2 separate regions of the Homo sapiens genome follow, and region 1 is linked to region 2. The links come from fine-mapping of genetic effects on gene expression. A gene starts in region 2. The other region holds a variant in brackets. All regions are shown on one strand. Distances are between the middles of the regions.

What was found.
Region 1: its variant is fine-mapped to the expression of LRRN3 in whole blood (INTERVAL, PIP 0.94).

What each region holds. Positions count from the first base shown.
Region 1 is chr7:111,012,004-111,014,934 of GRCh38, forward strand. All of the region lies in intron 3 of IMMP2L (inner mitochondrial membrane peptidase subunit 2), which reads right to left. Among named protein-coding and RNA genes, the nearest start is that of LRRN3, 78 kb to the right of the region's middle. The variant T/C (reference allele first, on the strand shown) is at 1,547.
Region 2 is chr7:111,089,790-111,092,720 of GRCh38, forward strand. LRRN3 (leucine rich repeat neuronal 3) reads left to right here and starts at 1,338. Exons shown (of 3, transcript NM_001099658.2): 1 at 1,338-1,715. The region is part of intron 3 of IMMP2L (inner mitochondrial membrane peptidase subunit 2); the gene reads right to left.

The DNA of each region.
Region 1 (2,931 bases), 78 kb before region 2:
CAAGAGAAGGTAAGTATGTCCATTTTCATCCCCCTGTCTATATTGAGTAACAGATATTTATGGAGTTCGAGTGGGAAAAAAGGTACAGGGAGAGAGAATTCTATTAGTTGAGGAGCTGAAATGTAATGCAGATCAAAGGTACAGGGATAAAATAAATTTCTATGGCTATTTCAGGTAAAATTTGATATGGCTAATTTTCATATGCACCATTTCTGATGAGATGTCCAAGCACGAGTTTTCAGAGTAACAATGCAATTATTTCCATTATCATTTTGAATTTATATTGTTATTCTTCCTTTAAGGAGTTTGAGTACCTCATACAATGTTGCAATTACTTTCAGAAATGACTCACTATAGTGCGAACAGTATTTCATAATAATGCAGCCAATAAAATAAAAACAAATATAAATTTCACCTAGGCAAATAAACATGAATGCATTCAGTTCCTCTACATTATACTTTTTCAATTTACAATGAAATAATTCACATATAGTAATATTTATATATGATATTAACATAGGGGCAAATGAAACATAGTTGATAAAGACACAATCCTGACTTTTAAAAAAATTTAAACCAACCTTAACAGAAATTATGTTTTAGAAGGCCAATAAATATAGATTTAGAGCGACTATTTATACATTACATATGTGGTAGCTATTCTGGAGTTTTAGGTAAGTTAGGGTGGACACATGTTTATAGGATCACAGAACAGAAATTTCAGAGATGAATGGGTCCAATCACTTTAGCTTACAGATTTATTAGTAAAGGCTTTAGCCCCTAACTTGCCGATGAGGAAATGAAAGCTGAGAGGGTTCACTGTATCTTATTTTTTCAGAACTTGTTCAAGCTTGTTGGGAGTTAGAAAATAACGAACATCCTAAATTATTGTAAGAAAATTTGCAATTAGGAAGAGGAAGGGCTTCCATATAGCTTATGTGCACTGCAGCTTTCATTCATTCAGCACAATTGTACTGCATACCTGACGTATTATACATTGCACTAGGTACAAGAACTATAGCAGTGAGCTAGATTGGTATGATTCCTAAATTCATGAACCCCACAATCCACTGAGAGAAACAAACAAGGAGAGAGGGCCTTAGAAGACCCCTAGATAAAGATTATATAAGGGAAAAGTACCTAAGGACAGATGAGGCTGTTGTGGTAAACATGTGTGAGACTGCAAAAGACCTTATAAGCCACGATAATAACTTCAGTATTAGTACTAAGAGCAATTGAGAACCACTTAAGAGTTTTATGTAAGAGGTAGACATGAGCAAATCATATTTTATAAATATGTTTCTGACTGAAGGAGGCAAGTCAAGGCAGGCAGGCTGGCCAATGAAAAGGCTTCTACAACACTTTAAGGCAGAACATGAAGTCTTGCACAAGGAAAGTAGCAATAAGGACAGAAAGAAACAGGCTTACTTTTCGAGGTAAGACTGAAAGAATTGGGTGACTGCCTGGATGGGAGGTGTGAGGGAGATGAAAACGGAAGGAGGGTGTGCAAGTTTCTGTTTTAGTAAGTGGGTGAACAGGAAGCCAT[T/C]CAACATAAAAAGGAACACAGAAGGAGGAGAAGAGGAGGATTTGAGTGCAAGCAGGTTATGTTCACAGGCATCACTCCAAACTAACTCCTCCCACATACAAACTCCCATATATGCCCCTTGCCTACAAGTGGAAAAAATCATTCATTTTACAGTGAAGTAGAATGATTCCCTGTAACTTAGGCAATATTATAGAGTAAAATCTTAATTATGTATATCTTTTATTCGTTTAGTTTATCTGTGGTATATCTTGATTAAACATTAAGTAGACTGCTTATTTTTTTTTTCTTTTTTAAAAAACAAGTCTGGTTTACCACCTCATATAGCTTTCATCTTACCAAGAAAATTCTTTGAAAGACAAACATGTAAAAAGTTCCCTCATATCAAGGAGGTCTTGACCTAGGGGTCAAGTCAGGAAAACTGGACATATTTCCAGCTTCTCAAGTCATATATTCACAGCAAAACTTCATTATTTTGCTGGCAATTACTTTTCAGAAAAGTAGGCATATCCATAATCAAATATAAGTACAAACAGGCCAGGTGTGGTGCCTCACGCCTATAATCCCAACACTTTGGGAGGCCGAGGGAGGCAGATCACTTGAGGCCGGGAGTTTGAGACCAGTCTGGACAACATGGCAAAACCCCAAAAATACAAAAATTAGCCAGGCATTGTGGCGCATGCCTGTAATCACAGCTACTCAGAAGGCTGAGGCACGAAAATTGCTTGAACCTGGGAGGCAGAGGTTGCAGTGAGCCGAGATTGCATCATTGCACTCCAGCTTTGGCAGGAGAGTGAGACTCTGTGTCAAAAGAAAAAAAAATTGTGTGTGTATATATATATACACACACACATACACACACACTTATGTATGTACAAATTACATTTTAAATGCAAATATAAATGACTCCTGGATTAATCTTTGAATCACTGAACTCTGTTTTTATCATAAGTTGACTATTTAAAAGGCTTTTGGAATGATTTCTTGGATATGAAATGAAAAGCACAGACAACAAAAGCAAAAACAGACAAATGGAACTACATCAAACTTTAAAACTTTTGTGCATCAAAGGACACAGTCAACAGAGTGAAAGGTAATCTATGGAATGGGAAAAAAAATCATATATTTGATGAGGGGCTAATATAAAGAATATTCAAAAACCTCTTATATGCAACAACAACAAAAAACCAAATAAGCCATCTAAAAATTGGCAAAGGACTTGAATAGATATTTCTGCAAATATGACATACAAATGGCCAACAAGCTTGTGAAAATGCAAATCAAAACCACAGTGAGATATCATCCCACACCCACCCATTAGGATCACACCTATCAAACAAAAGAAAACACAAAAATAATAAGTGTTGTCAAAGATGTGGAGAATTGGA
Region 2 (2,931 bases):
ATTTGGGAACTGTTTCTAGAAAACTACAGAGTGAAAATATTCAGTATTTAAAGACAAGCCTACTGTTTAAAATTTTTCCTGGTATTATTATTATTATAATAACTGCAAACTATTGTTCTATGTCATGTCAATAAGCACTTAAGGAGCAATTAGATGTGAAGGTTTTGTTTTTTTTTTCCTAAGTAAATCTAATAAGTGCCATTTCTCTTTACTCCACTAGAGGGTAGTCTCTCAAAACTGGGGTTGGAGTCATGACTAGCCTGCTTTTGACCTGTTGATATATTAATCCTCATGTTCCATTCTCCTCAACAAGATGTTTCTCTAGTATACTAATTAAGGTTGTAAAACATGCATTTTTAAAACTGCTTTTTGATTTTTCATGTATGTTCTTTCAGAAATATGCACTGCTATGTGTTTCTGTGTTTTCCAAATTTCTGGTAATTAATAAAAATGTTTTACATGTATGGCTTATATAGTATATTTTCCTGGGAAATATCCTTTCAGAGTTAATAGGCCTAAGAATAAAGATAGTCTTTTAAATAATTTAACTTATTACAATCGAAATATTTCCCCAGAGTGGTAAAAAATACATCCTAAATACACACACACACTCACAGATACACAAACACACCTACACATGTACCCATTCATATGTAGCTCCTAGATTTATTACATCATATAAAGAGAAGTCAGTGAGTATAATTAGAAATACATATTTTTAAAAAGTACCCCCTCAAATGCCAATGTTGTGAATTACAGAGAGGCAAATATATGCTTTATTTTAAAAATCTGGTCAATCCAGACAAGAAATGTCATTGCTAAAAAAAAAAAAAAAAAAGTGTTATTGAACACCAAGCACATATGCTAAATTAAGTAGGATCTATAGAGAACCAAATGCCACTCAAAACAGTTGCAAGCTTCTCTTCTTAAATAATGCAGTCATTGCTGAACTTCAGAGACGGAGTTGGAGGTTTGAGTCTCTACCAGGTGTTTTTAATATTTAGGAAATCCTTATCAGTAGTGTGTCCTCTCTATTTGCAGACTGAAAACATATTTCTCTGAATGACTGATAACCTAAAATTGAGAAAACTTGTCAAAAATTCCCAACATTCCCTCAGAAAGGAAAAAAAAGAAGGAAAATGATACCTAGGAAAACATGCAAGCCTGTTTCATTTATTTGTATCCTAAGCAGCAGTGTCATAGAACAGACAGTTTGTTTCAGCCAACCAGACTGGAGCAGCTGCGAGTGCTACATCTTGGCTGTCTGAAGCGATTGGCTCCTCTCTGGGGAGTGGAGGGTGTTCAGTTATTAATGACCGCTGAGCAGGCAGCACCATGTCAGTGTGACAACTGATCGGGTGAACGATGCACCACTAACCACCATGGAAACAAGGAAAAATAAAGCCAGCTCACAGGATCTCTCTTCACTGGATTGAGAGCCTCAGCCTGCCGACTGAGAAAAAGAGTTCCAGGAAAAAGAAGGAATCCCGGCTGCAGCCTCCTGCCTTCCTTTATATTTTAAAATAGAGAGATAAGATTGCGTGCATGTGTGCATATCTATAGTATATATTTTGTACACTTTGTTACACAGACACACAAATGCACCTATTTATACCGGGCAAGAACACAACCATGTGATTATCTCAACCAAGGAACTGAGGAATCCAGCACGCAAGGACATCGGAGGTGGGCTAGCACTGAAACTGCTTTTCAAGGTAAGTTTAAAATACACATATATTTTAAAATACGTTCTATTTCTTGTCTCTTCGATGATCATGTTTTTACACCTAAATCCTCCTTTGATGTCTTCTTCTTGTCTGAATTCTAAGAGCATTTTTCTTTTATTGCACTTTTGAGAAGAAATTCACATGCAAAACCCAGCTGGCTCTGTGTGTGCCTAGCTGTGTTTGTGAGATTCTCCAACATGCATTTTACTAGCTTGAATGCCCATTAGAGGATGTGAGTGGGAGAGAAAAAGCAGTGTTGGGGGGAGGAGAAAAAGGAGGGAGACAGAAGAGAAGGGAACAGTGGGGGAGAAGAGAGGAGGAGAGGGAGAGAGAAGGAGATGGGGAAGAGAGAAGACAGAGAGGAGACAGAGAGGAGAGGAGAGTCACGGGTGATGGGGTGCAATTTTCCTTTTTCTTCACATTATTTGTAGTGAAAAGCAGATCACACATTATTCTCTGTTTTGAAATCAACCCACCAAATGGGGCATTTTTATTTTGTCTCATCCAGTGGATGCAAATTAAGGCAAATGCTGTTGTATGTTAAGAGCTAAACCACTAAGCAGAGTAGCAGAATGAGCATATCACAAACAGTTATTGAATTTCTGCCAGGCTACATCTTACGGACTGGGGTAAATGACTTCCCTTTAATAACATCCCCTCGCTGGTCTGAAGGGACAGTGCAAATGTCTGATTGCTAATGCAGCTGGAACTGCCACACACTAGGTGAAAGGATCCCATGAACCAGAAGAGTTCTAATCTTTGGTAATTAACAGGATCACAGCAGGATGGCTTTAAAGTACATTTCCTATTTAAGAAAATTGTTTGTTCTAACCAACTGCTATATTCCCTTTGCTGTTGTTGAGCTGGATGGCTTAATTCGGCTCTAATTTATTCATTTTTAACAATATGTCCTTGTTTCTCTGCCTCTAATTTCAGTGAAAGCAGGCTATGAATATGAGTAGAACCGTCCTAATTTAGTGAAAAGGGGATAATGTGAAAACAAAAATAGAAGTAAAGGTTCAAAATATCTACCTAGAAAATAGTGTGCTCTGGTACCATAAATATTACTGATATATTTCTCATCTTTAGTTTCAGAAGCAATGCCTTTGAGACAGAATTACTCTCAGTAAACTCTATGAGCATCCATGTATTGATGATTCATGGAATTCAGTGTGGGTTAATTTTTACTTCCAATCTTGTAAAG